Regions from separate parts of the Homo sapiens genome. Here region 1 is linked to region 2. Evidence: fine-mapped expression QTL. A gene starts in region 2. The other region holds a variant in brackets. All regions are shown on one strand. Distances are from middle to middle.

What was found. PIP is the estimated chance that this variant, and not a neighbour inherited with it, causes the effect.
Region 1: its variant is fine-mapped to the expression of TTC21B in thyroid (GTEx, PIP 0.92).

Annotation. Positions count from the first base shown.
Region 1 is chr2:165,857,921-165,863,303 of GRCh38, reverse strand. It overlaps LOC100506124 (a long non-coding RNA gene), which reads left to right. Exons shown (of 4, transcript NR_045375.2): 2 at 239-360; 3 at 4,900-5,089. Among named protein-coding and RNA genes, the nearest start is that of GALNT3, 66 kb to the right of the region's middle. The variant C/G (reference allele first, on the strand shown) is at 2,630.
Region 2 is chr2:165,951,559-165,956,941 of GRCh38, reverse strand. TTC21B (tetratricopeptide repeat domain 21B) reads left to right here and starts at 3,166. Exons shown (of 29, transcript NM_024753.5): 1 at 3,166-3,257. The coding sequence starts at 3,237. RefSeq lists an enhancer at 2,402-3,151 and a silencer at 2,916-3,315.

The DNA of each region.
Region 1 (5,383 bases), 94 kb after region 2:
AAGAGTACTGAGGTCCCAGCCAAAAAGAGGGCAGCCAAGTTTGGGGACTGCAACTGCAGGTTATCTACCTTTCTGATGCTTCAGAAAGGTTTGGTATGTCATCCTCACCAATGTTCTATCCATAGTGACAGTGAATGATACTCCTTGTGGGTCTGTCTTCATGGCCAGTTCACAGTGAAAACTCTTACTGCTGTTTCTTAACTAAATTTTGCTTTTCTGTCTGAACTGTCATTACCAGCACCCTCAGTCATCACAGTCATTAGACTGGACATCTGCCTCCATGGAGAATATGTGAATACCTGTGAATGTACTTCCTGGAGGCGCTGCCAAACTATTTCCAGCAATGACAAAACATAGCATGTACGTGAATTCCCAAAGTGCCTTCCCTGGGCATTCTTTTCTAGCAACAGTATACCTTCTGGTGACTTTCTAACAAAGCAATTACATAATTCCTGGAAAGCGTGTACTTTTAAAATTTTAGATCATTGAATCTCATCCTTTCATTTTAGAGGTAAAAAGGGAGCTCAGGAACATTGATTAAATTGCCCAATTCATTTTTATATATGCATTTTTATATACATATGTATATATCCAAAAATAATATCATATAATTATATACATGTACCTACACACACATTCATATATAAATACACACATGTAAAGAGGAAGGAATCAGTTACACAAATACATAATTTTTTTTCAGGTTGTCTAAAAGTATACTCCAAGTTCCCCCAAGCTAGAGACCATTATTATCAGTGATTGCTCTACAATTTGCAAGTAGCAGAAACCAACTTAGGATGGCCTGAGTTATATGTAACTCTTCAAGTTGGCACTGGAGCTGAAAGGTGGGAAGGAACTGGAACCAGGGACTGGAATGTGGGCAGGACTCTATGCCTTTCCTCTGATACTTTCTGCATGTTGCTGTTCACTCAACTATCCATCCAGATATTCACTGAAGACCTATTCTATGCCAGGCACTGTGCCAGGCAGAGGGAAAGCCCTCATATCGGGCAGACCTGGTCTTCTCCAGTAGATCTTGTGAAACTTATTGGCTCTCATTCTCTCTTGCCACTGCCATGTAAGTAGTAGCTTTTGCTTCCACCATGATTATGAGGCCTCCCCAGCCATGTGGAACTATGAGTTTGTTAAACCTCTTGTATTAGTCTATTTTCATGCTGATGATAAAAGACATATACCTGAGACTGGACAATTTACAGAAAAAAAAGAAGTTTAGTGGGACTTACAGTTCTACTTGCCTGGGGAGGCCTCACAATCATGGTGGAAGCCAAGGAGGAGCAAGTCAAATCCTACATGGATGACAGCAGACAAAAAGAGAGAGCTTGTGCAGGAAATTCCTCCTTATAATACCATCAGATATTATGATACTTATTTGCTATCACAAGAACAGCACTCAGATATTATGAGACTTATTTGCTATCAGAAAAATAGCACATGCCCCCATGATTCAATTACCTCCCACTGAGTTCCTCCTACAACACGTGGGAATTCAAGATGAGATTTGGGTGGGGACATACCCAAACCATATCACCTCTTTTTCTTCCCAGTCTCAGGTATGTCTTTAGCAGCAGCAGGAATACAGACTAATACAGTAAATTGGAACCAATAGAGTGGGATGCTGCTGAAAAGATACCCGAAAACAGGGAAGCAACTTTGGAACTGGGTAACAGACAGAGGTTGGAACAGTTTGGAGGGCTCAAAAGAAGCCAGAACAATGTGGGAAAGTTTGGAATGCCCTAGAGACTTGTTGAATGGCTTTGCCCAAAATGCAGATAGCAATATGGACAATAAAGTCCAGGCTAAGGTGGTCTCAAATGGAGATGAGGAACTTGTTGGGAACTGTAGCAAAGGTGACTCTTGTTATGTTTTAGCAAAGTGGCTGGCAGCATTTTGCCCCACCCTAGAGATTTGTGGAACTTTGAACTTGAGAGAGATGATTTAGGGAATCTGGTGGAAGAAATTTCTAAGCAGCAAAGCATTCAAGAGGTGACTTGGGTGCTGTTAAAGGCATTCAGTTTTATAAAGAAATCAGAGCATAAAAGTTCAGAAATTTGCAGCCTGACAAGGTGATAGGGAAGAAAATTCCATTTTCTGAGGAGAAATTTAAGCTGGCTGCAGAAGTTTGCATAAGTAACGAGGAGCTGAATGTGAATCATTGCCAAGACAATGGGGAAAATGTCTCCAGCGAATGTCAGTAGTCTTCAAGGTAGCCCCTCCCATCACAGGCCTGGAAGCCTAGGAGGGAAAAATGGTTTCATTGGCTGGGCCCAGTGTCCCTCTGCTGTGTGCAGTCTAAGGACTTAGCGCCCTGTGTCCCAGCCACTCCAGCCATGACTACAAGGGGCCAAGCTAGAGCTCAGGTTGTGGCTTCAGAGGGTGCAAGCTCCAAGCCTTGGCAGCTTTCACGTGGTGTTGAGCCTGTGAGGGCACAGAAGTCAAGAATTGGGATTTGGGAACCTCCACCTAGATTTCAGAGGATGTATGGAAATGCCTGGATGTCCAGGAAGAAGTTTTGCTTCAGGGACAAACCTCACGGAGAACCTCTGCTAGGGTAGTGTGGAAGGCAAATGTGAGGTAGAAGCCCCCACACAGAGTCCCCACTAGGGTGCTG[C/G]CTAGTGGAGCTGTGAGAAAAGGGTCTCTATCTTCCAGACCCCAGAATGGAAGATCCACTGACAGCTTGCACTGTGCACCTGAAAAAGTCACAGGCACTCGTTGCCAGCCCATGAAAGCAGCCAGAAAGGAGGCTGTACCCTGCAAAGCCACACTGGCAGAGCTGCCCAAGACCATGGGAACCCATTTCTTGCATCAGCATAACCTGGATGTGAGATAAGGAGTCAAAGCAGATTATTTTGGAGCTTTAAGATTTAACTGCCCTGCTGGATTTTGGACTTGCATGGGGCCTGTAGCTCCTTCGTTTTACCCAATTTCTCCCATTTGGAATGGCTGTATTTACCCAATGCCTGTATCTCCATTGTATCTAGCAAGCAAGTAACTTGCTCTCAATTTTACAGGCTCATAGGCAGAAGGGACTTGCCTTGTCTCAGGTGAGACTTTGGACTGTAGACTTTTAAAAGAGTTAGTGCTGAAATGAGTTAAGACTTTGGGGGACTGTTGGGAAGGCATGATTGGTTTTGACATGTAAGGACATGAGATTTAGGAGGGGCAAGGGGCAGAGTGATATGGTTTGGCTGTGTCCCCACCCAAATATCATCTTGAATTCCCACGTGTTGTGGGAGGGACCCCATGGGAGGTAATTGAATCATGGGGGCAGGTGTTTTCCATGCTGTTCTCATGATAGTGAATACCTCTTACAAGATCTGATGGTTTTATAAGGGGGAGTTTCCCTGTGCAAGCTCTGTTTGCCTGCTGCCATCCATGTAAGACATGACTTGCTCCTCCTTAGCTTCCACCATGATTTTGAGGCCTCCCCAGCCATGTGGAACTGTGAGTCCATGAAACCTCTTTTTCTTTATAAATTATCCAATCTTGGGTATCTTTATTAGCAGCATGAAAATGGGCTAATACACTAGTTCTCACTTCTCACAGACGTTTCACTACTCCCATGTTGTAAGTTTGGCCACATGCAGAGAATGATGTGTAGTTTCTTAGTCCCCAACTCCCACCACCAATATGGCCAGGAAGGAGGCCACCAGGTGACACAGGTTACCCAGGCCCACATCTATGGATAAAAAGGTTGCTGGGCAGACAGCCTGAAGGCTCCACTACAACATGTTATCTGATCCTTTTGCACTTCTCCCTCCACAGTATTTAGTCCAATTTTTTTTTTAATTCACTCAAGTGCTAGCTTAGTTGAACACCTACATTTAAAAACCCACAACTTTTAGTTAAACAATGTAGAAAATTACTGGACTTTCACTGATAAAGAAATTTGCAACATGGTAAATTATTTGTTCAAAATCATAATTCTCCCATCTGTTTTATTTCTCCAAATGTCCAAGCAACCCAAACCAGGACAGTACCAAGGGCTGTACCACCCTAGTGGTACAACCACTAGATATCACCATGACTAAACTAAGAGTTCAGTCGGAACTGTGCTGCTGAGAGTATCAATGAGTTGACAGCTGCCCAGGCTTGCACTTTTCCAAATCACGGAAGAAGGAGCCATAAAGAGCCAGGCTCATCAAAATTGAGTATAAGCAATTCTCAAAGACCATGTTGATAAACAACAAGACCCTTGACCTTTATATTCCTTCTTTATGTGCTAGGTGGCCCTTATATTTACACATTTTTAAATTATTATATAAAAAGAGCCATTAACCATGGTCCCAGCTCATGTAAAAGATGGAGAGATGCTGGGAAGGTATCAAATCAGTTTGGCTCCAGTTAGCCCCAAGGATTTTTCATTAGGCCACGCTACTAAGTCTCTCTGACTTTAATCCCATTTTCTTGGGCTCACATATATCCTGGGGCATTGTGAGGTAAGAATAAGTCAGTCAGGAATCAAACAAAATTCAAAGAAATGGATAGGCATCATGATATGGTTTGGCTCTGTGTCCCCACCCAAATCTCATCTCAAATTATAATCCCCACATATCAAGGGAGGGACCTGTTGGGAGGTGATTGAATCATGGGGTGGTTTCTCCCAGGCTGTTCTTGTGATAGTGAGGGAGTTCTCACAATATCTGGTTGTTTGATAAGTGTCTGGCATTTCCCCTGCTTTCTTGCTGTCTCTCCTGCTGCCTTGTGAAGGAGGTAGCTTGCTTACCCTTTGCCTTCCACCATTATTGTAAATTTTGAAGGCCCCCTGGCCATGTAGAACTTTCAGTGAATTAAACCTCTTTTCACTATAAATTACCCAGTCTTTGGTATCTTTATAGCGATGTTATAACAGACTAATATTAATACATATCACTTCTTTAGGGAAGGCAGTAAACAAGATGCTAACTGATGGAGTGAAATCCCCAGGAGATGCAGAAGGCAAGTGCAGCTAACTGAGGCCTCAGGGGCAGGAGATGCCCATCAGGATGAGAGCTATGTCTTTCTCCAGTGATGACTCTGCTTCTATGAGGTCACCAGCAGTAGAACCATATCTTGCTGGCATACACTTGGGGTAAGAATATCATTGGCAAAGTTGCTTAAGATCCGATCTGCTTAACTATAACTACCTCCCCCTTCCCTGTTTCCTTCATCTTCCTACTCATATACACATGATACTTTCCTCTCCCTTTTTCTAGTTCATCCCCCTGGGAGAACCACTTTCTTGCCTAGAGTGAAACTCTACTCTCTTGTTTATGTTCAACATATTTTGTTGATGCTCCAAATTCTCTTGTTCTGGCTTCTCTCCAAGGCATTTTGTCCTTTTCCTTACAACTAATGTAAAAAAGAAGAAATATCCTTGAACTTC
Region 2 (5,383 bases):
AAAGGTTTGTAAATGCACCAGTCAGCACTCTGTGTCTAGCTGAAGGTTTGTAAACGCACCAGTCAGCACCCTGTGTCTTGCTCAAGGTTTGTAAAGGTACCAATCAGTGCTCTGTGTCTAGCTAATCTGGTGGGGACTTGAAGAACTTTTGTGTCTAGCTAAAGGATTGTAAATTTACCAGTCAGCACTCTGTGTCTAGCTCAAGGTTTGTAAACACACCAATCAGCATCCTGTCAAAACGGACCAATCAGCTCTCTGTAAAACAGCCCAATTAGCTCTCTGTAAAGCAGACCAATCAGTAGGATGTGGGTGGGGCCGGATAAGGGAATAAATGCAGGCCACCTGAGCTAGCAGGGGCACTCTACTGGGGTCCTCTTCCACTCTGTGGAAGGTTTGTTCTTTTGCTGTTTGCAATAAATCTTGTTGCTGCTCACTCTTTGGGTCTGCGTGCGTTTATGAACTGTAACACTCACCGCGAGGGTCCGCGGCTTTATTCTTGAAGTCAGCAAGACCAAGAACCCACCAATTCCGGACACATTAAGGTCTGAACGAAAATGACGTATTTCTGGAGACGAAGATGTTAACTGCTACATTATATTATCTAGCTTTATAGTGCTCATCATCTGGTAGAGAACATTAAACAAAAATGCACTATAACTAGTAATACAAGGACTATGCAAGTGTAATAAGTCTTATAGAGCAGGGGTCCCCAATCTGAGGACTGCAAATCAGTGCTACACAGCAGGATGGGGTATACAGCAGGACGGGGTACACAGCAGGAGGTGAGCTGCGGGGCAGGAAAGGGAGCGTTACCCCAAGCTCCACCTCCTTGTCAGATCAGCGAGGCATTAGATTCTCATACGAATGCAAACCCCATTATAAACTGTGCATGTGAAGGATCTAGGCTGTATGCTCCTTAGATAAGAATCTGATGATCTGAGATGGAATAGTTTCAACCCGAAACCATCTCCCCTACCCCTGTCCATGGAAAATTTATCTTCTGTGAATTGTCTTCCACCAAACTGGTCCCTGGTGCCAAAATGATTGGGGACCACTGCTATAGAGCACTACGTGTTTAATGGAAACTATTGGTTATACAATGCCTATTATGTGTCAGGAAGTTTTAATATGTCTGTAAGGCATTTAGTTTCTTTAGTAAATAAGGAAAATGAGGCTTAGGGAAATTACTTCCCCAAGTCACAAAAGTAGCTAGCGTAATAGGAGCTCCACCTCAGATGCAGAAGAGGGTATTCTTGCCACTACACTGTGATATTTTTATACCCATCCAGTTATGGTGATCCTTAAAGACTTCATGAAATTTGAAATGAACTCAGAAGAAGGAGATTTTCTCAGGTGAAGAAAGAGCTCAAAACAAAGTAGGGGAAAGCATTACCAGAAGAAGGAATATTTGTCCCACTGAGCGGAATAAAGGCTCCTTGAAGGGGAGGTAGAAGATAAGGCTTGAAAAGACGATGAGGTGAAGGGTCATGGATATCAGACTCAAAAGTTTGTAGCTAGTAAAAGTGAGCCGATAAAAATGTTACTGCTAAGGAACACATCGATTTTTCAGGAAAGACAAGAGTTTTTCCTGGCCTGAGATCCAAAATAAATTTCTTACATGAGATCTAGTAAGGGCACAGGGCACACCAAGTCACCGTGAGTGTCAAAGCAAATCTCAGAGTACTTTTAATCCAACAAACATTTATGAAACATCAGGCTTGGTGTTTTGTGCTAAATAATTCAACCTTAGAACAGAATTCAGTGAAGAGAATACGAGGCTAAATTAATATGACTTTCAAGATCTCCAAAAGGTAGGTTGATCATCTGTTCTGTTAACCATGATCCTGAGATATTTCCTTACAGATGAACTTTTCTCTTATAACCAAAGGTTTACAGTTCAAGATTATACACTTCATTGAGCACCCTGGTCCTGTGGTATTCTTTGCTGTATACCAAGTGCGGATTAATCCGCAGCTTTGAAAATCAAAGAGATATCACCAGTTGTTCATCACCACAGACATTTAGCTGGACTATAAATATTGGAAAGAAAAAAAAGTTGCTCGTGAAAATACGTGGTGAATTCCTTTAAAGAGAAACCGGTGAGAAATATTGCTTCACCTTAAAGCCTAGGATGGTAGCTACCGTTTTTCTCAAGACTGTCCTTACATAACCTATTGGCATGGGGAAAAAGTCAATGTTTATAAACTCCTTAAGAAACTTAAAATCTGGAAAAGGCAACTACGTATCATGTCAACTAAAGTAAGATAATTAACACTAGGATCAAAATTTGGAATCCACGTGAAAGATTCTGCAAAGATCACTTAAATCTCAGACCTTATGCACTATTTTAAATATTTATTTAAGCAGAAATAGAAAATCTTAGTCTATTATATTTCCATTTAATTTCCTGGACTTAAGAAATCTATGTGTGACTGATTGAGTTGCCTAATGGGGTGCAAACATAAAAATTTGCATTGGGATTCATTTTATTCTCAGTTTAAAATCAGTAGTATCATTGAAAACAAGACACTAATTTTCTGGAAGTTTAATTTATTTGTCCCTCTTATTATCGGGGCTGGTAAAAAAGGGCTAATTGAACACACATTCTAACAAAGATTGCAGCAACGCCTGCAAAGACGGGCCCAAGCGCACCGTATTTCTGTTAAGAACGTGTGATTTTTTTTTTCTGCGCCACCTTGTGGCCGTAAAACAACTTGCCCACGTGAAAGTTGACCGCTTTTTCCCGCGCCGGCAGAGCCTTGCTGAGAGCCGCACTGCGGGAATCCGCCTCCAGACAAACGTGCAGAAAATGGTGTCTTCCTTTACAACCAGTGACAGGAAACAGACTTCCCCTTCTTCATACTCCGTTTCCTTTATTCCTGAATTCCATTTCCTCGGCCCGCCCACCCACTGTCCTCAGACAGCCGTTTCCCAGTGTGACCTCCTTTTCCAGCTGCACTCTCCGGCGGAGGCCCTTTTCCCAGCCCGGACCCTCCCGGGCGGCCCTCGCAGCCCTCACCTCCGGGTCCCCGCCGCCCCTGCTCCATTACAGCACGATCCCCGCCACACAGGCCCGCCTCTCCCTCCGACAGCCAATCGCGGCGCGACCCCGCCCCTCCCGCTGGGGCCCGGGGCGCTAGAGCGCTCCGGGAGGCTAGGGGAGCTGAATTCTGCGTCTTCCTTTAGGCTGCGGCGAGACAATCCCCAGAGCCCCGCGGCCCGGCCTCGGGGCAGCCATGGACTCGCAGGAATTGAAGGTGAGCGGGTGAGCGGGTGAGCGGGTGAGCGGGCGGGCGGGCGGAGTTCCTTTGCGGCCTTTTGGCCCGGGGGCGCGGAGGGAGCTCGGGTGGCTTCGCTAGGCCGCTGTTTCCCTGCGGTGCCCCGGCTGCTCGGGTTGCGGGGTGGGCCTGCAGCCTCTGCTCACGGCCGGTCTCCGCGGGCCCTGCTGGGGAAGCCCAGGTCTGGGCAGCCCGCCCGCTCGGTGTTTCTGAATTGCTGGTCCCCATGCTGTTGGTTGTGTTTACTTTTGTATCATGTTTACTAGGAAAGCTTGGGTTACCTATGACACTGCGCCTCCGGGTGCGATTTTTAAGGACTTAAGGCAAACTAGTGTCAGCTCCCACACTGGACAGTAAAAAGAGCGCAGAAAGATTATATGAAACCCATTAAAGACGTAAGACTTAAAAGTGGAGGGGTCGTTATTTTAGGGTGATGGTCTTCTCTGTTTATCACTGACTCATTCATTCAGCAAATATTAATGACGGTCAACTTAAGAAAGGCTGATATAAAACAGTTAAAGACATGAGGCTTGAAAATAAAATAACTTTTCGGATGTTGGTCTTCTCTATTCATTTGTTCACTGAATCACTCGTTCAGCAAATATTTATGAAGGGTTACTGTATGTCCATTAGAAGCTGGAGATAGCAGTGAGCAAAACTGAACAGTTTCTGCCTTCTCAGATTTTACAGGCTAATTAATGCTGGGGAAAAACCCTAATTCAGTTGACTCAACAAATATTTACTGAATGCCTCCTATGTGTCTAGCACTGTTCTAAGCACTGAAATAATAAAACCAAGAAAAACTCTTCCAATCTTGGAGCTTACATTTGAGTAGGAGGAGTCAGACAACAAGTAGGTAAATGAAATGTGTATCCTGTGAGATGGTGATAAGTGGATGGAGGACAATTTGGCGATGTAGGAGGTTAGGGAATGCTGAAATGTCTTGTTTTTCTGCCTGAAGTTTTACATTATCCTCTGTTCTAGCTATCCCCCTATATCCTTACATTTTTTTATTCCCTTAAATGTATTATTTGCACTGCCACCCAAATGAACATTTTAATAAAAACACTTTAATGTAAAATGTAAAAATGGGCCTCCTCATTACTTAGACTTGAGGTTCAAGTCCAAGTACTTAATATGAGGCTTTTCACCCCACCTTCGTCTCCAACCTCATCATCCAATACTCTCTGTCTCACTTAAGCCTCCAGAGCAGAGAATAGCAAACTTTCTCAACAAAGGGCCAGATAGTACACATTTTAGACTTTATGGACCGTATGGTCTATCACATCTAATTGGCTTGTTCAAAACAGCCATAGACAATACTTAAATGAGCATGGCTGTGTTTCAATAAAACTTTATTTATGAACACTGAAATTTGACTTTCATGTAATTTTCATGTTATGAAATATTTCTTTTTTTTCCTTGACAGCTGGAAAATATAAAAACCATTCTTAGTTCACTGGCTGTACAGCCAGCCAGCCAGATATGGCCCACAGAGTGTGGTTTGCCAAACCCTGCTCTAGAGTATGGAGTGGCTTTTAGTCATCTTCATCACCACTGCCATCCCAATGTACCATTGATGACTTGTTATCTGTGTTGTTGCAGTTCCTCTTCCTAACTCCTGTACCTTCCTCAAGAATCATGAAAAGGAAATAGGAAGAGCGTGTACGTGTGTGGAGGGAGAATGAGGGGTTTGCAATTCAAGAGTCAGCTCTGAAATCCTCCCCAATAATCTTTCCCTTGATTTTAGTCATCCATCCTCCCCTCACACCACATTCAGTTTTCAATGCTGTCAAAATGTTGCTATCCCACATTCCCAAAGGAGTTTATAAGCTCTTTTCTTACATTTACTACATTATATTTCAGTTAGTCTTCAGATTACAGTCTCATCTGAAAAATGTAGGTTTTCCGGGGGGACAGGAACCATGTCTTACTCATTTTTCTATTCATAGTAGCTAGCCCAGTGCCTGGGTACTAGTAGGCAGTCAGTAAATGTTTTGGATTGAATAACCTAACCTGAACCAAGGCAGTAGCATTAGGTATGTTTAGTGGGAGGTAGACTGGAGAAATAGAAGAACCTACTAAGTGGTTAGACTTAGAGAGAC